Linked DNA regions of Homo sapiens: regions 1, 3 and 4 are each reported to be linked to region 2. The links are microRNA targets in miRTarBase. Many come from high-throughput screens and were not tested one by one. Region 2 holds a microRNA gene; each other region holds the end of a gene's coding sequence.

Region 1 (8,159 bases), not on the chromosome of region 2:
CACAAATACAGATGATAGCTGAGTCACACTTGTTTATAGGGGATCAAAGAAGGCTTTGGGAGGGAGGTGACATTAGAGGTGACTTTGAAGGATTAGAGGAATGTTGCAGACAGATGTAGGGATAGAAGTAGGTGTAAGCCGAGTTTCTCGTGGGACAGCTCCAGTTGGGTTACGGAATACCAAGGAGTTTTGTGTGAGCAAAACCTGCAGGGCTATGAGGATGGGCAGAGAGAAGCAGCTAAGGATATGGGGTTTAGTCCATTAGAGAAAAAAGAGGAGGCCAGCCCCTAAGAAGTTCCCAGTATTGGGCATGTACAGAACACTGAGGTACCAGTAGCTGCTCTAGGTGCTACAGATGTAGTGGGGGCCAGCACAAAGGTCTATCTCAGGGAGCTGACATTCTAATTGGGGAAACAAGCAATAAACAAGGAAACCAATGAACAAGAAGATTGTGGAGGGTGCTAAGTGCTGTTAGGAAAACCTCACAGGGTGCCGAGATCAGCATGACTGGGAGGCTGGGGGCTCTTTTCATTGTGGAGTCCTGAGGACAAGAAGCCAGTCACAGAAGTTCCAGAGGAAAAGAGAGCAACACATAAAGACAGCAAGCGCAAGGCTGCCAAGGGACAGAGAAGCTGGGTGTGTCTGAGGAACTCAGAGGAGACTGGAGGACCTGACTCCAGAAGAGGCCAGGAGAGAAAGCAGGTGAGGCCAAGGATGCTGGCGGGCGCTGTGCAACAGGACCTGGAGACCAAGCCATGAGTTTGAATTTTATTATAAGAGTAATGGAAGACCCCAAAAGAATGTAAGCAGAATGAGACATGACTTTCATTGCTTTTGACTACTCTGCTGGCTAGATGGAGAGTGGGTTGGAGGGGAGGGAGCAAAGGTGGAAACAGGGACACCAGTCTGGAGGCGACTGCAGTCATCCAGGAGAGAGCCCTGCACGAGGGCGGGAGTGGCGGAGGTGGGAGAGGTGCATGGATTCTAACTGGACTTTGAAAAGTTATGCAGACAGGGTATTTTCTGGCTGATTGGATGCAGTGGATGAAGAAAAGAGAAGGATCCAGGATTACATCAGGAGCTTTGGCCTGAGCAACCTGAAGGACAGACGTGCCATGACCAACATGGGAAGATGAGCAGGTTCTCTAGGAAACACCAAAGGGTGAGTTATGGTGGTGTTACTTTTCAAATACCATGGTGGCATCAAGTAGGTATTTGGCTAAATGTACACAATCATCTGTGTACTACCTTCATGTGACACTGGAACAATTATTTATATAATAATTTTATTTATGTCAATTTTAAGTAGGCTGACATTAGCTCCATGCTAACCAATCTTATCCATAACATCAAGGGTTTTTTAGACTTCTAGTATTTTTTTTTTTTTCTGAATACAATAAGTAATGACAACCATAGTGCTCAAGTCTCCCTGTAATTCCACCCTGACATTCTCTCCTTCCCCAGTCTCCAGCAGAGTCTGGGTACCTAGCATGAAGAAACTTGTACTGGGCATTGGCCTTGACACCCAGGAACCTCTGAGGGCCTTCAAAGGGACCACAGTGGGGCACAATGGGAAAGAGACCTTGTCCAATAGCTCTGCAAGGCCCCGGGGGGCAGCCACCTAACTGCCTCAACCGGCCCTGCTCAGTCCTCTGCTGGGTGGAGGGTTCGCAGAGTGGAGCCCACCACCCTTTCCTGAGGTTCATGCGCCCTCTGGTGGTAGGGTTCCCCATCTCTGTGCACTGGGGGCTTCCTTGTTTCCAGGCTAAACAGAAGACAGAGACCCTCTGCCTCGGATTCACCGAAGGGAGGGGATAAATGGTCAGACTAACTTTAAGCTCCAGACCAAGGAATAGATGCTTCTGAGGCTTGGACTCAGGCTGGGCTGGCCAGGCAAGGACCACCACAGGTCACACCAAAAGAAGAAGGAGTGTGGTGCGCAGGAGAGGGGACTTTTGTTTTGTATAGAAGGTCACCAATGCAGAGAAAAGCAATTGATGGCCATATGCAAATAGAGCAATTTACCTTCAATGGGTATTTTCAAATGAAAATAAAAAACATTCCAATTTAAACATTTTAAAATCAAGAGCAGGAAACATCAGGCTGTGCTGAATAAATCCAACACATAATGGAAAACGTACTTCAGTTCCTATATTACAGCCAGTTATAGGAGAGAGGCGGGGGCGGCGGCCAGCAACAGACAGGAGAGTCACGCTCTTACAGAGAAAACAACCGGAGAGAGGGTGGGTGAGGGGCTGGCCAGAGACAGACACTGCCTAGGCTGACATCCAGATCCTCACACAGGCACACGCGCACAAACACACACACACACACACACACACACACACACACACACGACAAGCTGCACAGATATTCCTTCTGTTGTTCCTTCATCCTTTTCTCAATGAACAAACTGTCTTTAGATGAGAATATATTATTGCTAAACAGACACTTGCAGACCAGTGTGCAAGGGAGTCTCACATAGAAAGCTGTGGCAGGACTCGGAGAAGGGGCCTGTGAATTTCATCTCAGAAGAAAAAGTGGCAGAAAAGGGTAATCCAGGCAGAGGGAACAGCATGAGAAAATACCTGAAAGCATTCCAAGACCTGAACACTAACTTCTCAAAAAGGAAGTTTTCATCACCTCTAAAAATGAATTCAATGTAATTTTATTAAGAGCAGGAAATCTAGACCTTCCTCTAATGACAATCCAATAGTCCACCCTCGCTGTTGTCAAAAAAAAAAAAAAGTTCAACCCCAAAATTAACAGTAATTAGCCTGAGATATTGTAAATGTGGCTCTATAGTCTGAAATTTAATGGCATCTTTTGTCAAAAATAGTCTTTTTTCCACTTTAGTCTCATGACTACAATACTATAGTGCTATCCCTATAGTATTTACTACAGTACAGTCATCAAAAATATCTGAAAAAAACTCTTAGACCTTGTGAAATAGTGCATCCATCCACTTCTATAAAATTAGGAGCCACGCAAAGATCTAACAGAGTGCTGCTTGCCCAGATCCAGAACAGAGAAAGTTAGTGTTAAGGACTTGGAATGTGAACACATTGTTTGTAGTGCTATCCATTCCTCTCCTGAGATTTTCACTTACTACTGGAAATCCTTAACCAATTATAATAGCTTTTCTCTCTTTATTTTCAAAATGACTTCCTTTGCTTTGCTTAGACACTCTGTGCTCTCTTTTTTTTGGGGGGTGGGGGGAGCGGGTAACCATAGTTCATCTAAATGCAGCTTTTTCTGAACCTTAAAGATAGAATCCCGTTTTTAATGAACTGAAGTAGCAAAATCACCTTTTTCATTATTTTGGGAAATAGCTATTGCCAAAGTGAAGGTGTAGATAATGCCTAGTCTTGTTACATAATGGGGATGTGGTTTGCAGAATTTTCTTTATAAAATTGTAGTTTCAAGGGATGTCAGTGTTTATGCCACTTTTCCAGTTCCAAAATGATTCCATTCCATTGTAGAAATTTGAAGTATGTAACTTGAAATCCTTAATAAAATTTGGATTTAATTTTATTTAAAAAATAAAAGAAAATACCTGAAAGCTGAAGAGAACATAGACATTCGAGACATGGCAAAAAGTTATGAGAGAGTGGGCCCAAGGATATCTGGGGAAAAGAAAACTGGAAGAGGGTGGGAGCTGAGCCCTGGAGTCTGTGTCTTGAACCAATGAGCTCCCCATGTGGTCCAGAGAAGGTGCCTGCCTTGCCCTGGGGAAAACCAAATCCAAGACACAATGTCCATCCCATGATGTGGGCTGGAAATCAGGCACCTGTTGGGGCTGGGCTGATGGTGAACCAGGCTCCAGGGAGAACACTGAAGATTTCTTGCTGAAATCAAGGCAAAAAATTTCAATGCAGTCATCCCCCTGTTTCTGGCCCCAGTACCATCTTACGCCTGCAAAAATTACATTTTGTCCTGGTTCCAAGACACGGTAAAAACTGAACTCAGTGCAACCTTAGCAATGAGGTTATTGGCAAGGAGCTGGCTAGGTCTCCGAAGACTCCTCCTGTTGCGTGGGGTTCTCTTGAGGCAAAGGGGTTTAGAGCTTTTTCTCCAAGCCCAATACCCAAAGGGGGGTGTACACAAAGCACTGCTCCATCATGAATGCATCTCTCTCCTTCTGCAACTTTCAGGGACCAGGACCTAGGCATGTGTCATGTTACAGATCCGTCCAGGTGAGTCTTCCCCTGGTTAAGGTTTCTTCCTCTAAGCTAGGGAAGAGGTCAAGAAACTACACTAAATGTAAAAGAAGCCTGGCCAGAAGGATGAATCCACATAAAAAGGAATGGTAATGCCAAAAGCACAGGCAACAGAAGCAAAAGCAGATGAATTGAATTACAACAAAATTAAACACTTCTGCATACCAAGGGGCACAATCCACATGGTCACACCGTAGAAAAGCAACGTAGACAGTAAGGAAAATAGTTACAAATCATAGCTGATAAGGGTTTAATATCCAGAATATATAAAGAACTTCTACAACTTGACACTCCAATTAAAAAATAGCCAAAGAACTTGAATAGACATTTCTCCAAAAAAGATATACAAACGGCCAATAAGCTTGTGAAAATATGCTCAAAATCACCACTCATTAGAGAAATGAAAATCAAAGCAACAGTAAGATTCACCTGACACCCATTAGGATAGCTACAAAAAACACAGAAACTAAGTGATGGGGAGAATGTAGAGAAATTGGAACCCTTGTGCATTGCTGGTAGGAATGTAAAATGATGTCACTGTTTTGGTGACACACAGAAAAGAAAATGGTTCTTCAAACAATTAAAAATAGAATTACTAAGTGATCCAGCAATTTCATTTCTGAGTATATGCCCAAAAAACTGAAAACGGGGTCTCAAAGAGCTATTTGTATACTCATGGATACAGGAATATTCACCATAGTCAAATGGTGGAAACGACCCAGGTGTTCATCAAGAAATGAATGACTAAGCAAAATGTGGTGATCTATACAATCAAATATTATCTGGCCTTAAAAAGGAAAGAAATTCTGACACATGCTACAACATGGATTAGTCTTGAGGATGTTATGCTGAGTAAAATAAGCCAGACACAAAGGACAAATACTGTATGATAGCACTTATATGAGGTCCCTAGAGAAGTTAAATTTATAGAGACAGAAAGTAGAATGGTTGCTTCCAGGGGCTGGGTAGAAGGAGCAATGGGGAATTTTTACTGGGGACAAAGTTTCAGTTTTGCAAGGTGAAAAATTCTCAAGATTGTTTTCACAAAAATGTGAATATACTTAACACTACTGAACTGTACACTTACAAGTGATTACGATGGTAAATTTTGTGTGTATTTCACCACAAGAAATACATGAATAAATAAGTGGTGTGCATGTGAACAGGAAGGCCTCTGAGTCTGCACCTGGATTTTCTTGCCCACTAATTAGTACTTTTCCTTTAGGCTCCTGATCGTGTTAGAATGCCCAGCTGAAAGACCTGATACTCCAGGAGATCTTTCCCAACTCCCCCAGCAGAGCCAATGCTTCTGTCAAGGCATGACTGCTGTCAGGGAGAAGCATGAGAGTTTTGGTCCGCTGTGTTTCTTTGCTCATTCATCCATTCATTCACTCATTCATGTGTTCACTTACTCCCCCAATGAATAAATGTTCTCTGAATGCTCCTCAGTGCCAGCTATGTCACTGAGGCTCCAAATAGACACATGAGGTAGACTGTCTTGGCCTTGTCCACAGTCAGGAGGGGAAACCAAGTCCACTAAAACTGACCGCACATTACAAAACCAGGACAGAGAGGCTCTGCGCTGTGGGAGCCTACAGAGGAGATAATTGACTAGTGTGGGAGTGGTTGCAGTCAAGTGGGCCTTCTGCGAGAACGTGGTGCCTGAGGTAAGCCCTGAAGGACCCATAAGGCTTAGGCAGGCAGGGAGAGGTGGGAGAGTGTATTTCAGACCGAAAGAGTTCTGGATAGGGGCAAAGAAAAGTAGTCTTTCCTTCATATCCTTGCGTTTCACATCTGCAGGTTCAACCAATGGCAGATTAAAAATATGCAGGAAAAAAATAACAGATCAAAATAATACAAAGAAAAGATACAATATAACAGCTATTTACATAGCACTGACATTGTATTAGGTGTTACAAATAATCGAGAGATGACTTAAAGTATGGGAGGATGTGCATAGGTTATATTCAAATACGACGTCATTTTGTATCAGGGACTTGAACATCCACAAATTTTGGTATCCATGGGGACTCCTGAAAGCAATCCCTGATGAATACTGAGGGACAACCATATGGTGAAAAGAGAGGGATTAATGAAGGGAGGGAGAGAATGTGAACAGCAGAGTTGAGCAATAACCACAGATAGTTCAAAGGAATTTTTTAACTCATAGGTGCCTCTAATGCAGATATTAACTTGAAGAGTCTCCCCACCACCAGCAGTTTTCAGGGCCTCTTTAGGAATGCTCTTCATAGGGGAGGGATGGCCAGAGCTGCCAGCTACCTCTGTCTCCAGGTGGACAAATGCCAGTTGCCTTGCTCCTCACTCCCTGCCCTGGAATGGACCAGAAGCCGGGTCTATCTCCTTGGTCCACAGAAGACTGCAGAGATCCCATCCTGGCTAGCAGACAGACAGATCAATCTACAGAGCAGGAGCTGGAGCATCTGATGGGGGAGGAATAACCCTGAGTGGGCACCCTTCTACCCCCTCCCAACAACACTATCACATCCCTTGGCCTGTCGTGGGAGACAGACACTGGGTACCTGATCTAAATGTCTATAGTCGGTGCTCGAAGTACATGCGTGTGCAGGGAAAAAGGAAGCATTCAGAAGACATGTTAGAAAAAGCGGGGGCCAGAACCAAGGGAGGGGTCGCTATGAGCAAAAGAGCCAGACTCCTGGCAGACAGCTGCCCCCTTCTCCCTTCCTCAGACTTAGGCAGGCCGAAGCTCTCGGAAGCCCAGCCAACGCAGTCTGTACTCTCCACAAACTTGGGCTAAACTTGGAGGCGGAATCTTGGATGTTTAGGCCAAAAACCCAGGGTCAGAGAGGCTTTTGGGAGAATTCAGGGAACATGAGGGTAATGCATGTAAATCCGGAGATCTAAATAGCTCCTCTAGCTTCTGGGATCAAGGCCAAGGCCAATGCTGGAGAGGCAGTTGGGCCCCAGGTCTTATGGCTCGTCAGCAGCAGCCAGCTCAGGGCTGTTCATCCCATCAGACAGGTAGTCATCTTCATTGTTCTGTTTCATCTTGGTTTCCAGAACTGTGATGCGCTGCTTGAGCTTCTGCTGGGCCCCCGTGTACTCAGCCAGCAGGCGGCCAAAGCGAGTGTACAAGGTTTCCATGTTGGTCTCCAGCTGCCCTAGCTTCTCCTGCACGTCGACCTCCATGCTGGTTGCCACTTCGTTCTCATCCAGCAGTCCCTCCTTCATGAGGATCTCCCGACCCCTCTCTTCTAGGACTTTCTTGGCATCAGGGTACTCAGTCACAGCTTCCATAAGATCATCCTTGGACAAGCAGAAGAGATCTGAGTAGCCCAGGCTGCGGATATTAGCTGTGCGTCGATTGCCCATTTTACTGCCCTTAATGTTAAGGATACTGATCTCGCCAAAGCAGCTTCCAGCCGACAGCAGAGCATACTGAGTCACACCATCATCAGCCACCACTGCCAGTTTGCCCTCCTTAATGATGTACATCTCCTTGCCGATGTCCCCTTTGCGGCAAATGTAATCCCCAGGACTGAAGACCTGAGGACGGAGTTTCAGTACCAGCTCTACCAGCAGGCCAGCCTCACAATCATGGAAGATGCGCACTTTCTTGAGTGTGGACAAGTGGACATTGATGGCTATCTCAGCCCTGAGCTTGGCTGGCAGATTCTTGAGAATTTCTCGCTCATCCACTGTCTTCTTATTGGTCCACAAGTAGTCAAACCACCTAATGACCTTGGCTTCCATCCCCTTGCTGACCTTTCGGAACTGCATGTAGTGTTTCACGGCATCGATCTTAGCCTGGAACTCTGCCCGGGTGGCATTCATGTTGGAGATCATGGAGCCCACATTTCCCACGATGGTGGCAAAGATGAGGACGCCAATCAGGAAGTCAAAGATGACAAATAGGTACTCCTCATCCTTTACAGGGGGTGGTGTCTCCCCAATGGTAGT
Region 2 (8,229 bases):
AGTATGCCTCTTAGCCCATGCCTCAACCACTGTGCTCTACAGCCTCTCTGTATGCAAAGAGCTGCATTATAAAGCAGCAAGTGTTTTTTTTCTCTAATTTTTATTTTAGTTTCGGGAGGTGCAGGTACAGTTTTGTTACAAGCGTATATTGCATGATGCTGAGGTTTGGGCTTCTATTGATCCCATCACCCCAGATAATGAACACAGTACTCAATAGGAAGATTTTCAGCCCCTGCCTCCTTTTGGAGTCCCTAGTGTCTATTATTTCTGTCTTTATGTTTGTATGCACCCAAGATTTAGCCCCCACTTATAAGTGAGAATTTGTGATATTTGGTTTTCTGTTTTTATGTTAATTTGCCTAGGATAATGACTCCAACTTCAACTATATCCATGTTGCTACAGAGGACATAATGATTTTATTCTTTTTTATGGCTGCATAGTATTCCCTGGTGTATATGTATCACATTTTCTTTATCCAATCCACCACTGATGAGCACCCGGGTTGATTCCATGTCTTTGCTATTGTGAATAGTACAAAGCAGTAGATGTTAAGTGCCCTTTAGTAATATAAAGTGCTACAGGAATTCAGACAATGAGCATCACTTAGCGCATTGCTTTCATCTTGCAGATAGGAAAGCCACTTGTAAAAAAAATCACAGTCACGTGTTCTGACTAAATTCATTACGTGAATTACCTTGGTAGAGCTTTTATCTGAACCTGAACTCTAAACTCCTTGTCTGCTCTTCTTTGCCCAGCCTTGTGTCACTACCTTAGTTTCACTTTTTATTCCTAATTTTCCCCCTTAAGACCATTTTTTTCTATTGTGTCCTGAAAGGTAATTAAGAAAATATTGAGACAATTTGCGGACATAACACATACCTGCTATCCAGAGATTTCCATTTTTAACCATAGTACCACTAATCTCACCCCACTTGACCTTCACTAAAGTATTACTTAATTTTTTTTCATTAGAGTTTGATAAATGGGGGAAAAAGAAGCTGAAAATACCAGCATGCCATTCACTCTGCAGGAAAGACATAGCTAAGCCAATGTTGTGCTTGGTTCCATTAACAAGTGCTTGTGCTAAATTTCCAGGAGGGTTTGTGGTGTTGTCTATTTGAAACTTTGCTGATAGTATTAAGCCAGCAGTCTAATTGCCATACACAGTGCTAGAATGGCCTGGGGAGTATGTGCTTAAAAGCCGAATTTATGTCCTCAGAAACACATTAATTAGGAACTCTCTGGAAAATGTACAGTAGTTGCTCTTGGTTGGCCATTTTACAAACTATTGAGAATCCAGAGGAACCAACCCTTAGAGGCTGTGCTTCAAGTGATATTGCTTTGCATTTTCCCCAGTGAGTACATTCTTATGAGAAGGCAGCTTTGCCAGGGTATGGGTGCTGACATATAACCAAGTGATGTTGATGTTTCATGAAAAGTGGGTGAGTTCCTACATGCCTCTCACCAGCCAGCTACCAGCTGCCAAACTCCTACTTCCCAATATTTGCCACAAGTGAGGCTGCTCTCAAAGTCTAGCTTGATCCTAGGAAGCTAGGGTCTAGAGATCTAACTTGAGGATTTGGGATCTTCCCTTAATGCTGTCTCTAAGGAAGGAACAAAATGAAGGCAGAGCAGAGCTGTTCATACTCATGGGGTCCTCCTCTGAGACCATCTGACCAAAGGCTAGCTTGCTTAGCAACTCCAGAAATATGATATTACCATTAAGTTTATCTCCTAGTTTGGGAAACAATAACCAAATTGGTAGGAAACCTGCCAATTATACTGAAATGGTTTTGATGACTTTTTTGGAAGATATGTAGACATAGTCATAGATGTAGATATATTTATATCTATACCTTGGCCAGAGAGAGAAAGAGGAATCAGTCCAATTAATAATATTATGCATGTTGAGTAACATGTTAGCTTTGTTTCAATTCCTCTTTTAAAAAGAAAAGAAAAGAAACTGGGTAGATTAGCCTCTAAATGGATAGTTCTTTTAAGTCAAAAGTAGCTAAACACTTGAAACTAGAACACTTATTTCTCTAGAAATCAGGAAAATGTTATTAAAAGGAGGGAAGGAAAGAATTCAATTCCTATCGTCTCCTGGAAAACACAGAATTGGAAGATTCATAATTATCATTATAATTAATATAACAACAACTAAGATTTCTTGAGGTTTTACTAAGTTCTAAGCATCAGTACAAGCACTTAACAGATATTAACTCATTTGACCCTTTCCACACCACAGAAGCTATCTAGGCTGGAAGAGAATAAAGAATGATACTTCCTCCAGCAAAGAGCTATGATTTTTAAGGACCTGTCCAGTTGAAGGAGTGATAAGACAAGATATAGCTGGTGCAGAAGGGCTGGATGATGCTCTACATAGGTTTCACTGTGCAACTTGAGTTGCCATCACGTATATAAATTTATGTAAATTGGGTAATCCATCTGCTTTAATAAAATGTGTATGCAACCACAGGGTGTAGAAATTTCAAAGATTTTATTTTTTGACAGGATGCCTGCCGTTTTTCTCTCTTGACTCCCGCTTGTTTTATTCATTTTGGGGTAGTTGCCAGTTAGACTCAGTTGGTAAGTATAATTAATGGAAAATGTGAATTTCTTCTTAAACTCCAAGAAATTAACCACAGAAGTCTTCATTTCCTTTATAATTTCCTAACAGTATCACTCCCTATGACTGTTGTTTTATCTCTATCTCTTCTGACATTCAACCACATCAGAAATTAGTTACTCCCTATTATTTATCATCCTAAAGATACCATATAGGACAGCTTGACGGCACTATTGGGATACTACTAGGAGGGAATGAGCATTTATTTAGGTTCCAAGCACCATGCTAGGCATTTTCATATATACTATCTCTTTTAATACTCACAAAAACCCTTCAAGATAGGGATTATTTTCTTCCTTTTATACAGTTGATGAAATGGCACCTCCAAGAGGTTAAGCCTTTGCCTTAAATCCAATTAGTGGCACAGCTGGGTGCAAACCTAGGCTGACATAATTCCAAAATACTTTCTCCTTTCATCCTACACATGGAAGCATTATCTCATTTTTTTAAAAAGGCTCCCCTAAAGTTTGGTTACCTTGGAGAGTTTGAGGGTCATTATTCCATTCAGCAACTATTTGAGCACCAACTCTGTGCCAAATATAGGTTGAGCATTGATTCAGTTGGAATGAGTCATCAAGCAAAACTTTGGGAAGAAGATGGTGGTTAGTTGCAAGATGGTGGAGAAACAATATTAGGAAGAAATACAACAGGGTGCTGGAGAGGAGCGTGGGGATGGAGGCAAGCAGAGGACCTCCTGATCATGTACCCATAGAACAGGGCGATGGAGAGGAGGGTGGGGTTGGAGGCAAGAAGAGGACCTCCTGATCGTGTATCCATAGGACAGGGTGATGGAGAGGAGGGTGGGGTTGGAGGCAAGCAGAGGGCCTCCTGATCATTTACCCACAGGACAGGGTGATGGAGAGGAGGGTGAGGGTGGAGGCAAGCAGAGGACCTCCTGATCATGTACCCATAGGACAGGGTGATGGAGAGGAGGGTGGGGGTGGAGGCAAGCAGAGGACCTCCTGATCATGTACCCATAGGACAGGGTGATGGAAAGGAGGGTGGGGGTGGAGGCAAGCAGAGGACTTCCTGATCGCGTACCCATGGCTACAGTCTTTCTTCATGTGACTCGTGGACTTCCCTTTGTCATCCTATGCCTGAGAATATATGAAGGAGGCTGGGAAGGCAAAGGGACGTTCAATTGTCATCACTGGCATCTTTTTTGATCATTGCACCATCATCAAATGCATTGGGATAACCATGACATGAAATTTTCCATCATTGGGCCCATAACTGTCCCATAAGAGAGATGAAAAACACTGTATGTTAAAGGTCATAGTAGAACTTCATCCAAGCAGCTCTGGAATTAGGAAGGAGTGAAATATACTCTCAAAGACTAATAGTTCTGGGTCCAAACCATGTGACTTGAAAAGGAAGCAAAGATTCCCCTGGACAGGTTACATATACTGTCATGCATTGCTTAACGATGGGGTTACTATATCCTCAGAAATGAATCATTAGGTGATTTTGTCATGAACATCATAGAGTGTACTTATACAAACCTAGAAGGTATAACCTACTACACACCTAGGCTATATAGTATAGCCTATTGCTTGTAGGCTACAAACCTGTATAGCATGTTACTATGTGGTAGTGAATACTGTAGGCAACTGTAACACGATGGTAAGTATTTGTGTATCTAAACATAGAAAAGACACAATAAAAACATAGTATAAAAGATACAAATAGTACACCTTAATAGGGCACTTACCATGAATGGTGCTTGCAGGACTGGAAGTTGCTCTGGGTGAGTCACTGAGTGAGTGCTAGAATATTTTTGTATACTACTGTAAACTTTATAAACACTGTATAATTAGGCTATACTAAATTTATTTTTTAAATTTTATTTCTTCAAAACTAAATTAACCTTAGCTGACTGTAACTTTTTTACTTTGTAAACTTTTTAACGTTTTAAAACTTTTAGACTATTTTGCAATAATACTTAGCTTAAAACATAAGCACATTATGCAGCTATACAAAAATATTTTCTTCATTTGCTTATTCTATGAGCTTTTTTCTGTCTTTAAAATTTTTTATCTTTGTATTTTTTAAACTTTTTTCTTAAAAATGAAGACACAAACACACTCATTAAACTAGGCCTGCACAGGGTCAGAATCATCAAGATGTCACTAGGTGATAGGACTTTTTCAGCTCTATTACTACCTTATGGGACCACCATTGTATTTGTGGTCTGTCATTGACCAAAGTGTCATTATGCAACACATGACTGTATATCAAGAACATCTTATTTCCTTCTGTGGGTGCTACAATCTGTTCAGCCCAATCATGCAAACTTTCTACTGCCTCAAACAGTCAAGGGAAAGGCCTTCCAAAACACAAATACCAAATTGATGATCAGTTCACTTTAGACTGTAATGACATCATTTTTCAGGTGCTGTCAAGTAAACATGTTTAAAGCTTTCTCCGCCTTTTAGAGGGTCTTCCCTCTAAAGAATAATTTGTGAGGAATAAACAACACAATCTATATCCCTGCTTTTTCATTATATGAAACGACTTGACACAGTTGGCTGTGTAACTGAAATATTTGTCATGCTTGTTAATGAAAAGTTACTTTGTCAATAAAGGTAATAATGAAGCCAAAAAAATAACTTTGAGGGAACAGAGCAAATTTTAGCGAAACTGGTTTCTTGGTATTGACTTGTCATGTTTATCTCACCCATTTTCCTATTCAAGCTAAAGACCTCCCTTTTTTCAGCAAAGAGACTTTTCTACATTGGAATTAGTTGTTCAGGGACTGGGATAGTTCTTGTAAACAAGTAGGTCCCAACAGGAGAGCTGTCCACCATTCTAAGACTTCTTAGACACTTTTACATTCAGGGAAGAATTTTGAGCTCCCTTTTCAGATTAGAAAGATTTGGGTTGCCAATGTTTGACTGGCATTTTGGTCTCAAAGTCAGCAATGTTTACTGTTGTTGGTCAGATACAATAGGTTCCTAGCATAACATAGGAACCTGTTATCTTGATGGAACCCAATATCTTCCTTATTTCATTGCTAACTACCTTTCATATTTTTCATCTGTTTTTATAGCTTCTCCTAACATAACACCATGTAGATCGTATGTCCCATCCATTTCAAGATACTTACAGTTTCCCTTAAATGATATACCCTACTGGATGTGGTTTTGTCTCTTTCTGACATTTACTAAAATTTCATTCTCTTCTCACTCTAACTACCTGGCCAAAACCTAAATTCCTTCAAGTCTCAGATTAAAAATCTTCTCCTCTCTGTAATCTTACCACAACTCCCATCCCTAGTATTCCCTCCAGCTCATACCCTGGTATCCTCCTGGGCCCACATTCACCTCATCCTCCATGCTCTTGCTGTGCTCTATATCAGCCTCTCCCACATACAGCTCCTTTTGGTAGAATGGAGCCTTCATAGTCTCCCATCTGCCTTCACAGTCTCTCATCTTCTGTAGATTGTGAGATCCTATAGAGCACAGCCTGTGTCTTATTCATTGTGGTCATTCTGAAAACCTTGCATAGTGCCTAGCCTATGCAAGTAGGTGCTCAATAACTTGTTATTATAAGCATCACTGTTTGATTTCCCTGGCTTTATTTTTAGCTCTGATTTTCAACCTGACACAAAGATGTAATAGAAGCGACTAGATACTAAAAAGCTATAAAAAAGGACAAATCATAAAGCAATAATGACATAGAAAGACTCAGGATAAATAAATAGCAACATGTACAAGCAAAGACCATCATGCATACTTCCAATTCATGGGCATAAAAGCATTTAGTCTGAGAAAGTTGACTGTGTTCCTGTTGAATTATGATTGTTGTAAATCATTTATATCTTATGAATTTAGAGAGTCTAATGATACATATTTTACAGCAGCCAGTGCACCGTGGCCTCAGTATTTCCATTTCCATGGAAAAAGAAATAACTATTGATTTTCCTCCATTTATTCAAAATGATAATTGCCCATGGTTGCTTTTCAGTCCAGATCAGGATCATTCCATTTAGTAGAAGTGCATGGCTAACTTTAGAAAGTTAGACACACATAAAATTAATGGGAAAACTTATGCTGACCGAGCAGTTTTCTGCCATGATCAACAGTTTTATAGTGAGATATATTTAGGGAAGATAAGGTGTCTCATTCCCTGGGGATCTTAAAGAAAAGTGAGCTGAGATTTTAATTTGCTTGAGATAATCATCTTAAAACCAGGGACTTTATCATAGGACCCTTCAAAGTCCCTTCTTAGGATTTATAATTATTTGTCTCTTCAAATTATTATTTAGATCATGTCAAGTCATTGAAACTAATGGATGTAAAACTGAAGAATCATTCATATAGTCTTGGGAAATGACTATAAATAGTGCTCCCAGATGTCACTAATAAAGTTGTCATAGCTGTTAACAGAATAAAAACTTTTTTCTTTTTATTTTATTTTATTTTATTTTATTTTATTTTTGAGACGGAGTCTAGCTCTGTCACCCAGGCTGGAGTGCAGTGGCATGATCTCAGCTCACTGCAACCCCCGCCTCCCGTGTTCCAGCGATTCTTCTGCCTCAGCCTCCCGAGTAGCTGGGCTATAGGCGTGCACCACCAAGCCCAGCTAATTCTTGTATTTGTAGTAGAGACTGGGTTTCACCATATTGGCCAGGCTGGTCTCAAACTCCTTACCTTGTGATCCACCTGCCTCATCCTCCGAAAGTGCTGGGATTACAGGCGTGAGCCACCGTCCCGGCCAAAAACTTGTTAACCTTGAACCCCTTAAGATCCCAGCTCAGGATCATGAGCCCCTGAGGCAAATGAGGAAAACAGAGATTTTATGCCCTAAAATGGCCAAATAAGGAACAGTTGATTTTTTTTTCTTTTTTGGCACCCATAGCTGAAACAAACAGCACTTCTCCTCATGAACAGGCTGTTCTCCTTCTGTGTTGGAGGCCAGGTTTCAAAGCTGCGTAATGAGTTTCACGTGCTGCAGCCCAGCAGGCAAACATTCAAGTCCTAAATCGCAGGCAGAAGAATGAAGAACTCTCATTGGCTAAGGAGCCTTGGCGTCGCTGGGTTCACATGGGGTACTGGGCAATTCCTGCTGGAACGAGGCAGGGTGAAAAAACAGGTGTGCCTGTGCTAAAACAGGGAGGAAGATTGAAGAGTCAGCTTTTCTGGTCATCAAACAAATCTGAGCTGAGCCCTTCCTCATTAGCAGCATTTCTTCCACCCAAAGGGAGAACAGAGGAAGTGCACACTGACTCTGGTGCATGTTAGAATTTATTATAAAATCCTGGGGGAGGCTGAGAAATAAGCAGCAATTAAACATGGTGTGCCTGCATGAAGAGTTTGGGGAGAAGTAGAAAGTTCACTTCATCTTTCTATTTCCATTCTTAGATTCTATTTTTGCACATGTAAAGCAGGATTTGTTTTCTTTTGTTTATTTTTTTCATTATTCAAGTAATAAGAACTCTTATAGGGTGTATGAATTATTGTTCATAAACTTAGGTATGTAGGAAATGTCACTTGGTAAACATTTTCTTTTATTCAAATAAACCCAATTCCAAGACCCTTTCCACCTGGTTTGTGGTAAAGTCAATCTTTTTTTTTTTTTTTTTTTTTTTTTTTTCGAGA
Region 3 (8,229 bases), not on the chromosome of region 2:
AGGTTTCGGAGCTGGGCCAACAGTTGCCCCCGCGCTTGGAAGATGGGCAGACTCCGGCGCTGCAGCTCCACAGCTTCAGGGTAGGGACTGGCCGAGGGCTGGGCCAGGGGCGGCTGCTGCCTCCGGCCTCCTCCTCCTCCTCTGCCGCCGCTGCCCGCAGTCAGCAGCATCACCACTTGCCTCCCGGGAGGGAAGGACCCAGCGCGGCTCGGAGGTCCAGAGCCTGGCCGGAATCTCTTGGCCGGCGGGAAGCCCGCCTCCTCCGGCATGTCGGGAGGGCACCGCGGCGGGAGGCGCAAGCGCCGAGAGCTCCTGCCCCCTCTCAGGTGCAGACAACAGGAGCACACCGCCCCTTCCTCGCCGCCACGTGCTGGCGGCTCCCGGCGACCACCGATGACCTCACGGCCGCCCCAGTCTTTAGAAAAAGGGACTGCATCTCCCAGCATGCCTTGGGGGCTTGGGAAGGCTTTCACTTCCTGGGGGTGGGAAAAGCAGGGCCTGAGGTACAACCAGGAAAAGGCCCGGAGCTACAACCGGGAAACACAGGATGTAAGGTTCCGTGGGACTGTAGTCTTGGTTAACGAGGTTTTTCTCATTGTTTTATTTTTTTTTTTTGAGATGGAGTTTCGCTCTTGTTGCCCAGGCTGGAGTGCAATGGCGCGATCTCGGCTCACACTGCAACCTCCGCCTCCTGGGTTCAAGCGATTCTCCTGCCTCAGCCTCCCAAGTAGCTGGGGTTACAGGCGTGCGCCACCGGGGCCCGTCTAATTTTGTATTTTTAGTAGAGACAGGGTTTCTCCATGTTGGTCAGGCTGGTCTTGAACTCCCGACCTCAGGTGATCCGCCTGCCTCGGCCTCCCAAAGTGCTGGGATTATAGGCGTGAGCCACCGCGCCCCGCCCATTGTTTTGTTCTAGTAGCATTACTTCTTTTCAGTAAACCCGCGTTTTCCCCTTCTCTGTCCAAATAACAGTCACTCTTCAAGGAAAGTACTTAATTCTGTAAAATCAATGAGAAGCGCAAACGTGCATTGTCTAATCCTCTAAACAACTTATAAGTTATGTGGTATATACTGGTTATTAGATTATCTCTAATTTACAGATTAAGAAATTGAGTCATCTTAGTCATTCAGATGTCCCCAAATCATAATTTTGTGATCATCTTGTGTTACAGAAAGGAAAACCAATTCTGATATACATGAATTTAACTCAGAAAATGACTCCTCCAACGGATGTGGTCGCCTCCAGTAATACAAGCAGAGAAAGGAGGGAGTTCAATGAAATTAAAATTGTCTTTTATCTTTCCTTTCCCCCAACCATTCCAGCCAGACTCTCAAGTTCTCTACATGGCTGTGCAACCCCATCACAGACACTTCAGTGAAGATTCAGAACTGCAGCAGAAAAAAGTAGGATTATAACTAGTTCTTCCTTACCCTCCTAAAAGTTCTTAGATGATTTGCTAATTTACCACGGAGAATGCCAAGTAGCTGTTTGCTCTTACAGGAAATGTGATTTCCAGAGAATACACCGTAAGCTTCAGCTCATGTGAAGGGTATCTTCTGAAGCTCGTTTCCATGAAACTCGCCCTGTTAAATATCTCCCTTCCCGTGATTCGTGAGAGAGCTAGTCTAAAAACAAAAAACCTCCCCTTTGCTCCAGGTCGGAGATAATTTTCCTCTAGTTGCTGACAGTTTGGTGACCAGGCATTACTGAAAATGTGCACGTTGAACCAGCAGCAGATTTGTGTTTAAGAATAAACTGACAAATTTTCACTTCCTACCCTGAAATATTTAGAAAGGCAACCCAAAACTACAAGGGATAATAAATGTTAACTCTCAAATTATGGACTTTGAGTAAAGACATCCCAGTCCTTTTTCCCAGTGTGCTTTCCAGAGTAACTTAAGGTAGGAGTCCGATGTTCCAAATGATTACAATAATTTAGGTAATGTAAATGGGTGGACTTATTTCTTGATGGAGCACATTCCACCTCTACATGCAGCCCCTAATCATTTCTAGGCAATGGCTGTCATGTAGACCTATTATTGCCAGATCTTCCAATTTTCTCAAGAAAAGCCAAAAGTGAAGATTTTTATCTGTCAATGTTAAATACAGGTTTAAACTTAAAAAAAAAAAAAGTACTGTCAAAACAAAGCACATAGGTAGGTAACAAATCTGTAGGTAACTCATCCATAATCTCTGGCCTAATGATCCAGCTATTCTATAGCCTCAAAGCTAAGAGGACCAAAGAGTGGAAAAATTAAGTCCTATATATGCATCAAGCCATGCTGCTCACATTTCTCCCATTGGTAGACTGAAATCTGCTGTTTCTCCTGAAGAAGTCTCTTGGGGTTCACCAGCTTTCATATGTAGATACTGACAAGCTAATAACTATTCAGAGAATATCCTGGTTCTTCCTTCAAACGACGAAGTGTCAGACACATTTCATTTTTAACTTGTCTGGGATGGTCTGTGGACTTAACTGGTCTGATCACGACCATAACAGCTGGTGGTCACCTTTGCTTTTCCGACCACCAAATTACTGCCCTTGATCATGTTCAGTTTCCCTCTATCCCACTTTCAGAGACAACCACAAGCTTCAGCAACTAGGCTCAAGCTTGCATGCATACACTTTAATCCCTCTATAATTAAAAATACCAGATAATACTTTGCTGATCAATAAACAAAGGTATTTATTCAGCACCCATGTGCCAAGCACTGTGCTAGGCACTGTGGTGGATACAAAAATTAAGACATGGTCCCTGCCCTTAAGGAGCTTACATTCTCATGAGGGAGACAAGACTAATATACATGTACCAGCTAGGAACAGTACAAGACAATATATAATTTGGCGTTAAGAATGTCATACAGACTTGAAGCTTTATAGGGATTCAGAGACAGACAATAAAATAGGCCTTAGAGTCAAGATTTTTTGAGGAATCAGGAACAAGGCCAGGCCTTGAAGAACTGAAGAGACTTAAGTTGAGGTCCCTGTTAGGTAGAAGTGGGAGTAAAGTTAAGAAAAAAACAAGTATGCATATAATGTAGGGGCTTACTAAGAAGTCACTGTGGATTTCTGAGCAGAGGAGTGACTTGATCATACAAGATTCAACAATTTTATTGCAAACTCATAAAATATGTTTAAGTAGCCTGGAGACATCCTACAGAACACAGAAAATAATGGCAGGATCATGACTAACAACATAGCTGGAACTCACCTGTCAAAGAAAAACAGCTACAACATAAAACACTGGCAGGATAGATGACAATAGTTCTAGGAAGCCCATTACTCAACATGGCAATAGCTCCAATGCTTCCTTATTTTCAGAGGCCCCAGAGACTGAGGGTTTCATTATCCAGACCCAGGACTTAGGTGTTCTGCTTCTAGAGACTACACAAGAGGTATGAAAGATATGAGGACATACAAGAGTGACACAGAAAAAACAAGAGGAAGAGAGAAACAAATAGAAATCCATACTGGAAAAAAACGCACCGAAATGTATATAAAATGTATCTCCTAAGGAGATGCAATTTGTATGTCCATTTATTTTTAAATGAACGTATACCGTATTTCCATAACAAACAAAAAACACTATGCTTTAGTCAAGTGTGCTTTTCAGTATCACTAGAAGAATCCAGGAATCCCTCAAATTATGTGTAAGGTTAGTTGGTTGGTCTCAAAATTCCATGTATCAAATCTCACTTTCAGTTTATTTGCATTGTGAAAGGGAAGTGTGTTCTGGAAGAACTAAGATTGAGAGGTAAATTGGGGAGAAAGTAAGGACTTTTCCTTATGTCCATTCAAGCACAGGTATCCTGTCAAGCAACACAGGGCTAGGAATGGTGGTTGTAGGGCTGGCCAAACTGATGAGAGGTGATTGAAATTACCACTGCTCAGGACACAGTGTAGTCAGTCACACAGCAGGGCATCCTGCCACTGGGAACTTGCACCCTATAAAATCGGAGAAATCAAAAACCCTGTAACTGCCTGCCTTTAGGCTGTATATTCAAAATGTATTTCCTGTTTTACCTAGTCATTAATGTATACAGATATTCCCTACTTAAATGAACAGTGAGTTAACAGATTTTAGGATTAGTATTTTACCACAAAAATGCCATTCATTGCATAACTCCAACTCAGGGAGAACAAATAAAACTAGAGAAACTCATTTCTAGCCCAAAAACAATTTAAAAAAAAAAAACAAAAAACAAAATTCTAACAAACGTCACTGATAAAGCGTTCTTGAGCAAAAACAAGATAGGATAAAACTTAAGAATCCCATAAGGATTATACATGCTAAGATTGGCTTTTAAACTTTGAAAACCTTTTTTAAACTGCTTAAAAAGCAGTCCCATAGACCCAGGTTCCATAAAATTGCAACAATCATATTCAAAGTTATTAGCAACATGTAAAATACTTAAATACCATTAGTTATGCAATTCCATTTAAAGACATTAAAACACTTTTCACTTCAAAAACAATCTGAAAATTCCTATTTAGGATGTCCATTATGTTTAAGCCTATGTCTATCTTTCTGAGGACAATGTCACATTCTGGAAAGCTACCCCTTAACAAAGGTTGAATGAACTACTACTAACAATCCACTTTTGGGAAAGGGACCTGTGCCTACATGCCGTTAATGAAAGCTGTTTGGAATCATCTCTTTCCTAGGGGTGCTCTTTCGACTCTTCCAGGTTCTGGAAGTTACTTAAGCAGTGTGAATGCAAACCTGCTGAGACTCAGGGAAGACTTAATATTTAGGGGAAGTATTTATTGAACCACAGCATTAAGTGTCTACTTCTGTGGACCCTGTCTAATTTCTACCTGATTGGGAAGGTAATCCAGGTACTTGGCTCTGAAAAGGTTCTTGAATTTTCACGAAGCAAATGACTAATGTTAACTAGCCAAAGACCCTGGAAGAACATATGCCTAGCTAACTGGTATCTGTTCGTCTGGCTCCAAAGTCAACATTCTAACTTGGTTTCCAAATCTAATGAAAATCTGAGACCCTGTCTCTATTTTTTTTTTTTAATTAAAAAAACAAAAAACAAAACAAAACAAAAAAGGCAAAAAAAAAAAAAATGGCTGGGCATGGTGGCTCATGCCTGTCATCCTAGCACTTTGGGAGGCTGAGGTGGGAGGATTGCTTGAGTCCAGGAGTTCAAGACCAGCCTGGGCAACACAGTGAGACCCCATCTGTATTTAAAAAAAAATTTTTAATTAAAACTTTTTTAAAAATAAAAGAAAAAAAAAGTCTAATGAAAATCTTCCTAGTTTTACAAAAATGTGGCCCTTACCAATCTTTCCCTGGATACTTCTTAATGGAGAAATGTAAGTAAAGCAAATAAGATGCCACATTAGCTTACAGCTGACTTTCCTATAGCTGAATTCCTACTGCTACAAGAACCATCCTCCCTCCTTTTTTTTCATGTTGTCTGACAAAGTTTGGCAAAACCCAGATGCAAAACAACCTATCCAGATGACAGAAATAAATCATCTTCCTGCTGAATCTTGCATTCTGAGTTAGTAAGATGTACACAACCACAGCATGACAGCCACGTATTTCCAATCCTGAAATGAAATCCAGTTAAAAGTTGTGAAGACACAGGAAGAACAGCTGTGTAAACTGTTCTGAGCTCAGATCTACGCAGGAGGGCTACAATACATTATCAGAATTTAAAAGATCACACACAAAAGCTTTAATACAGTGAGAGAAAAATGGAATTCCGTTTTATTTTGTCCTCTCTGAAACTTCCATTTACACCATGGCCTCATCTATCAAGAAGAGGAAGAAAAGGCTCTGCCTTATACCATAAAAATCAAGTACTCATGTACTTGTTAGAGGTGGCAGGATATTTGTTTCTCCAGTTTTTTGGCTCTAAGAAATTACACTTTCAGTACCAGTGTAGTGAGGAACCACTGGCAAACTGTTGGAAATGTCTTCTGGATTAGTCAGTGTACCATTTCATAAAGTGCTTCTGGAGTTAAAATCTGCCAAGCTGTCAAAAGTGTCCACACTTTTGCAACAAAGGATAAAAGATCCCAGTGGGTATCACCGAGTCCTTCCCAGCTGGGTCTCATTATTGGCACTGCTGCTTTAACCTCCAAGCCGCTGGCCCTCACCCCAGGCGAAGCCTCCTGGCCGTTCCTCAGGTAGTGGATTGTAATTTGGATCCTCATCTGGTGTATCAAAAATAGCTTTCCTAAAAGACAAGCAACAGATATAATTTGGTCCCAGAGTCATCTCAGGTCCAAAGTACTACAAGGTCAGTTCAGGCCCCATAGGGTTTCCACCAATAGGTAAGCATTACACCTGCCTGCCAATTAAACAGTTAACATATTGTAAGAGCATCTATAATTATTAACATTTACATTAGCTTTTATCTTTTACTGATTTTTACTACAAAAGCAATCCAAATCATAATAATTACAGAGAAGGAGGAAATAGAGATGAGCAAAATATCCTCAATTTCCAGAGGTAACTATTGTCAATGTTTTAGTTATTCTTTGGGAATTTTTACATTATGTCATTTTACAAAAGTTAGATCACACTACATGTTTTGTAACCTGACTTTCACATATTTATCATTAATGTTTCCCCATAACCAAGGTATCACCCAAGTGTGCATCAACAGGTGAATAAACAAAATACGGTACACACATATAATAGAATTTTTTTTTTTTTTTTTTGAGACGGGAGTCTCACTCTGTCGCCCAGGCTGGAGTGCCATGGTGCGATCTCGGCTCACTGCAACCTCCGCCTCCCGGATTCAAGCAATTCTCCTGCCTCAGCCTCCCGAGTAGCTGGGATTACAGGCGCCCGCCACCACGCCCGGCTGATTTTTGTATTTTTAGGAGGGAAGGTTTTCATCATGTTGGCCAGACTGGTCTCGAACTCCTGAACTCAGGTGATCTGCCTGCCTCGGCTTCCCAAAATGCTGGGATTACAGGCATGAGCCACTGCACCTAGTCAACATGGTGAAACCCTGTCTCCACCAAAAATACAAAAATTAGCCTGGCGTGGTGGCGCATGCCTGTAATCCCAGCTACTACTCAGGCGGCTGAGGCAGAAGAATCACTTGAACCTGGGAGGCACAGGTTACAGTGAGCTGAGACTGCTCCATTGCACTCCAGCCTGGGCGACAGAGCAAGACTGTCTCAAAAAAAAGGAAGGAAATTCAGGCACATGGTACAACATGGATGAACCTTGAGGACTTTACGCTAAATGAAATAAGAAATAAGCCAGACAAAAAAGGACAAATATTGTATGATTCCACTTAGGTACAGAGTAGTCAAATTCAGAGAAAGAAAATAGAATGGTGATGGCTGGGGTGGGGAGTTGTTTAATGAGTACAGAGTTGTAGTTCTGTAGGATGAAGAGAGTTCTATGGATGGTGGTGATGGCAGCAAAACAGTATGAATATACTTAATGCCACTGAACATTTAAAATGAGTTAAGATGGTGAATTTTATGTTAGGTATTATTTTACCACAAAATTTTTAAAAAATTAACAAGGTATCCCAAGAAAAATTACTGCAGAACATAGGAGGGGATAGTAAATGTCCAAAAGACTCCCTAAGTACTATGATGTAGTAATTCAAAACCTCACTAAAGAAGGAACCATTAAAGCAGCATCCTCAATTTGCACTTATATTTCTACTTGTAATCCTCCACAGTTGATAAAATTAGAAATGTATCTGAAAACTTCTGATTTATACTGGAGTCAGAAAATAGTATAATTCAAAATGAGTTTTTAAAATTCTTACAAATTAACAATAAAAACAAACATACCAACAGAAAAAATGGGCAAAGGGCTGAATATGCAATTCAAAAAGGAAATCCATGTGGTCAATAAACGTGAGAATGTTTGCTCTCACAATAATCAAAGGAAAGTATATTAGAAACTGAGATCCCGGCAGGTGTGGTGGCTCATGCCTGTAATCCCAGCACTTTGGGAGGCCGAGGAGGGTGGATCACCTGAGGTCAGGAGTTCAAGACCAGCCTGACCAACATGGCAAAACCCTATCTCTACTAAAAATACAAAATTAGCCGGGTGTGGTGGCGCATGCCTATGATCCCAGCTACTAGGGAGGCTGACGCAGGAGAATCGCTTGAACCCAGGAGGCGGAGGTTGCAGTGAGCCGAGATTGAGCCACTGCACTCAAGCCTGGGTGACAGAGCAAGAATCCGTTTCAAAAAACAGCAACGACAACAAAAACAAAACTGAGATCCC
Region 4 (5,000 bases), not on the chromosome of region 2:
TGAAAGGCTCTTTTCACAGAGAGGAGGGTGTAGTGTCTCTGAGTCCTAGCTGATTTGGGTGTCAGCTCTCATTCATTCAGCTAACATTATCAGTGGCCTCACGTACAGGCTCTGTACTAAGCAATGGGATTGCCCTCTGTGCCCATGGAGAACTCACCGTTTAAGTCTGTTTGGGACAGTGGTAGGAAGAGAGGTTTAGTAGGAGCAAGGGACACACTTAACAAGCGAATACATCACCTGCTTTTAATGTCTGATGTCTTTTCTTTAGGACGTCAGAGCCCAGGCCACCATTCCACTTCTGGGCTATGTGGTGGATGAAATGCCAAGGAGCGCAGACCTGCCACACAGTTTCAAACTGACCCAGTCTAAGTCCGTGCACAGCTTTGCTGCAGACAGTGAGGAACTGAAGCAGAAGTGGCTGAAAGTCATCCTTTTAGCTGTCACAGGTGAGACACCAGGTGGTCCAAATGAGCATCCAGCCACCTTGGATGATCATCCTGAACCTAAGAAAAAATCAGAATGCTGAACTCCTCCAGGACCAGCCATGGTGTGGAGGTCTCAGGACTTACAGCTCAAGACATTCCCAGCTCTTCTTACACATCTGCTAGCACTTTATGTTGAAAAATATAGGCCCATAAATGCATCTTTTGAGGACTATTTTCCTATGTTTATGTACTCTTAGTGAAATTAGTGTGCAGAGTCATTCTACCGATAAAGTTTTGAAATAATGTGAAAACTGGAGCATTTTTTGAGCTATTCCTTGAATATGTGCTTTTTTGTCTTGAAGAAATGGTGTATCAATTGATTCTGTCACCGTCAGGTTAGAATGAGCACTTCCATTTAAGAAATCCTTTCATGTCTTCTTCTCTTTCACATGTAGGACCTGGAACAGTTTGAAAGATATACCTCCATGTTGCCAAAATAGATCCATGGTGAAAAATACAGGGACAGTTGAGGCTATTGTATTAACTTATTTAATTTAGTTTATAAATCTCTAGCTGCATAAATGATGTCTGTTCTTTTAAAACAAAAGAAAAAGGACAAATTGTTGGTGTTCAGATTTCCGATTTATAAAGAAAAGATAACTTGTTTTTGTAGAAATACTCCTAAGAATGTCTTAAGTATATAGCAATTATGTATATATAGTATTAAATATATATATTATACATGCTTTTAGGTTCACATTCATCTCTAATTTATTTTTTAAATATAAAGCATGGTTTATCGTGGAATTGAGCAATGTTCTAAACTGAAGAAATGTTTTGGTGATTTATGTTTTGCTGATTGGCATTTGAGGGTATTGATATTTTTATAATAAGCGGTAATTTATGTGGCATGGGATATATTTGTGAATTCCAACAGTACTTTTAAAGTACCATTTTTTGTTTCTGTGCCTATTTAAAACAGTGCCTCTCTTAGAAGGTGCTATTAATATAAGATGAGGGTTCAGTTAATGCTTCAGTCTTGATTATTCTAAGATTAAAGTGCATTTTGGTCACTGGGACAGTCAAAGTCATACAGGTTATTTTACCGTTTACAATCCTATAATTATTGCAGTAGTTAACATCAGCATGTACAAACATTTTCACCAAAACCCAAACTTTATGAGACACCTGACCTTTTACAGAACTAGGATATGTGGAAACCACATTTATCGTAATGTTTTTCTTTTCCGTAAGATAATCGAGCATGGTTAAATAAGGTCTCTATATAATGAACACTTAAGATAACTGTATGGGCCTTTTCCTTTGTCGGAATGAAACAAAATCCACATGTGATAACCTATGTTTGGGGTGGGGGCTGGTCACATGATTCCTTGTCATGAAGGCTGCTCTTCACTCTTTTGTACTTGTGATTAAAATCTCACACTAAGTTTACTATTTAACTTAATCCTTTTTCTCAAATTAAACCTTTTTTTATACTGTCATACCCCAAACATTGTCACTTTTTAATGTACCAGTCTGCTAGAAATCTACAAGAATGATCCCACTATCTTTAGTATGTAAGGATTACACCTTAGATATAGAATAGAATTTGAGACTGCCACACATTTATTCAGGCCTTGTTACTTTAAGAAATATCTTATTTTTTCCACCCCAAAGGAGCAAGTGAACCAATTATTGCTGACATAATAGGTTCCCTTCCTCCATAAAAGGATTATCAGCCATGATCATTAACATTAAACCAAATAGATGGAGCCAAAAAGAGATAAAAGTAGCTTCTTAGGCCCTATTAAATCAGGGAAAGACTAGAAGAAAATTTACATTGCTTCTCTTTTTTAATGGCCAGCGGGGTATGTGTGTGATGTATACTCAGAGTGGTTTTTTGGAAAATTAAACTGTAGCTATAGATGATGCTTTGGTTTTCTTAATCTCAAGAAAAGAGAAGCAATGGAAATACAGAATGATTAACTGGGGAAGAGGACTTTTGTAAGTGTGACTAGAACAATGGTAATGTATGGGCCAATGGGAAGATTTATAAGTCAGATTATTTTTGAAAACTATTTTTAAAAGCAAGAAGACTACACTTTCCCTACCAAAACAGAAGTAACATGGACACACTTAAGTTTTGGCTCAATAAATATCAATGTTATTTAACTTAGATCATTGAAAGAATACTCATGTAAAGATAATGTTTATTATCATGCTCTTAACAGTCATTATCTTTAATTTTTTAAATGAGAAGCATTAATACTAGAAGAGAATTTCTGGTTATCCGGTCACCATATTCACTTTCCACCCCACATTCTTCAGCTAAACGCAAAGAGAAGCAGTGAAACAGCCTTACCCGCTTCTCTCTTATTAAAGAATCACTGATGTTTTTACTCAATGAAAGGTAAAGTAATACCCTTAGCCATTTATTAAACAATTCAACCAAGAGACCTCAAAGTGTGATTGATGATAAGAATAATCAATGCCTTTTCCCTTCCAACATACTTGAGCAGTCATGACAACCTAAAAATATCATTGGTTGCTTTCCCATTAAAACCAACGTTCCCTGTGGGTCTTAATTCTTTATTTTCACTCATTTGGTGCTTTCCAAGTCATCTTTTCTTTAAAGTGCCCTTCCTCCAAACTTTAAAAAGTACTTCCTTGACAAAATTTCTATTCATTATAAAACATTTCAATATTTTAAGCTTAAATTTTGCTTTTGCTGAAAGCCTACCATTTGGCGTGTTAAGTATGAAATATAGTGCAGACTTTTATCTTGGTTTTAAGTGGGGCTCAATAAAAAACACCAGCCACTTTTGTAATAATGGCATCACAGTGTCATCATGTATGCAAGCAATAAAACTCTTTAGGGTATGGTTTTATACTGAAAATTTAATATGAAGGCCCCTTCCCACAAGAATATAGATAATTATTAACTTTCTAGATGTGATACGGTAATTCGAATTGCAGAGTATAAGGAAGGGAAATGGGAAGGGGCATCATTCCTTGGATTTTAAATAACTATCAAGAACATTTTTACTTTAACAAAGAAAATGGATAGAAAAAGCACATTTTGTTTTCCCTGAAGTTTAATTTGACATCAGGTTTGTGTACTTATCTTCACTAGGTGACTTAACTTACCCCAATTTTTTTAAAAATTATTAAACTTTTTACAGAAACTAACCTTTTAAATGTACCCTTTCCCCATATATATATACGCACACGTTTGGATTTTTTTTTTTTAAGAACACTTGTTCTAGTTATAAATATATAAAGAAAACGATAAAGTTTGTGGTACTGCAGGGTTGTTAAAGATTCTTTGATGCCTTCTAAAAACTTTTGTCAAAAATACTTTTGAGTTCACAATTCTGTTTTACTTTTCCTTGTCCTTACTTTTTGGAAACAGGGTGGTTGCTTTTATTTGTTTTCTGGTTATATTCAAAGCCTTAAGTTCTTAATCTGAGCATATTGTCTGTGATAAATTTCTGATGATCTTTCTGGACTAGATACAACCTGAGTAGCAAGCACCAACCGGAGCAAGTAAACTTCTAGGGAACAAGCGTCTTGGGTTTTATAGGTATCTTTGCTATAATGCAGAATAGATTAATGAAGATTTCCTATATCATATGATATTTGTGTTAGTGGGTCTAAGATTAAGCACATGATATTTATAAGCTAAAATTAACTCAAAAGTCAAGAATGTCTTAATGTTTTCATTCTTAAATTTTGTATTCTCCAAGAATGTATTAGTATATGAACTGTGGCCAACCAGTTCCTATTCTTCAGACTGTATTGACATCTGTAGTGGATCATGTTGCTTCTTCATTCTTACCAATTTTATTAGAATCAAACTTCTTGTTATTTGCATACTATTATCTACTATAGATTCTCAGCTTTAGAAAATGACTATGATACATAAAGACCACTAGGTCAACTTAAAAAACCCTTTCTGTGAATTTATACATGTATGTATATATGTAAAAACACTGTTGATTTGCAATTCTGTCTTTCCATAGAAATGAACTTTTTCTATCGAAATTGTTTAACTTAAATATTTTAACATAAATTATTTACATGGATCTTTATGTATAATTCATCCTTATATATACCCCTTAATCACGTAGTCATGAGAAGATAACTTTGCTTTCTTTACAGAAAGGGCAGAGAGGAATAAGATAAGAAACTGAAACAAGCAAGAATGAAGAGAGATGTGGGGGAGAGACTGCTGGTCTCCAGACCACAGCAATGTGTTTTAAGATAAGATGAAATATTTTAACTGCAGAAGGGATATAAAATCTATGTAATTACATGCTGATGGGATCCATTGCACCCAGGTTTTTGACCTTGGCCTGTAAATGCTAGACTATGATATCTTGTTATTCTTTTTCTCCTTTGGGCTTTTAAAAAATAATTTCATTCTCAGATCATTTTCTGTACTGTTTACTGAGGCAAAAAAAAAAAAAATCTGAAGTCAATCATGGTCTTCTACTTTCTGGACTGAGCATTTGGCAGAATGCAGTATCTTTTCCTGTATTTTGACATGAAATAGCACATGGCTTCTACAAGATA

Evidence for each region. Region 2 holds the annotated microRNA hsa-miR-204-3p (GCUGGGAAGGCAAAGGGACGU, at 3,746-3,766, shown strand). A microRNA usually pairs through its seed, bases 2 to 8, with sites in the 3' UTR of a target mRNA and lowers its output. Matches are read on the target gene's strand: a 7mer-m8 pairs with bases 2 to 8, a 7mer-A1 pairs with bases 2 to 7 and ends in A, and an 8mer does both.
Region 1: the mRNA of CNGA2 is a reported target of hsa-miR-204-3p. Seed matches in the 3' UTR shown: 7mer-A1 at 7,119-7,125.
Region 3: miRTarBase lists DERL2 as a target of hsa-miR-204-3p. Seed matches in the 3' UTR shown: 7mer-m8 at 3,933-3,939.
Region 4: miRTarBase lists FGD4 as a target of hsa-miR-204-3p. Seed matches in the 3' UTR shown: 7mer-m8 at 581-587.

The regions. Positions count from the first base shown.
Region 1 is chrX:151,743,509-151,751,667 of GRCh38, reverse strand. CNGA2 (cyclic nucleotide gated channel subunit alpha 2) reads right to left here. Exons shown (of 7, transcript NM_005140.3): 7 at 6,104-8,159. The coding sequence ends at 7,170. Among named protein-coding and RNA genes, the nearest start is that of CNGA2, 13 kb to the right of the region's middle.
Region 2 is chr9:70,805,530-70,813,758 of GRCh38, reverse strand. It overlaps MIR204 (microRNA 204), which reads left to right and starts at 3,675; the gene lies at 3,675-3,784. All of the region lies in intron 6 of TRPM3 (transient receptor potential cation channel subfamily M member 3), which reads left to right.
Region 3 is chr17:5,468,591-5,476,819 of GRCh38, forward strand. DERL2 (derlin 2) reads right to left here. Exons shown (of 7, transcript NM_016041.5): 7 at 2,664-6,199. The coding sequence ends at 6,094. It overlaps DHX33 (DEAH-box helicase 33), which reads right to left and starts at 392. Exons shown (of 12, transcript NM_020162.4): 1 at 1-392. The coding sequence starts at 269. It overlaps DHX33-DT (DHX33 divergent transcript), which reads left to right and starts at 502. Exons shown (of 3, transcript NR_135644.1): 1 at 502-549; 2 at 1,324-1,404; 3 at 1,502-1,770. RefSeq lists enhancers at 1-26, 1-35, 416-485.
Region 4 is chr12:32,640,008-32,645,007 of GRCh38, forward strand. FGD4 (FYVE, RhoGEF and PH domain containing 4) reads left to right here. Exons shown (of 17, transcript NM_001370298.3): 17 at 269-5,000. The coding sequence ends at 526. Among named protein-coding and RNA genes, the nearest start is that of DNM1L, 37 kb to the right of the region's middle.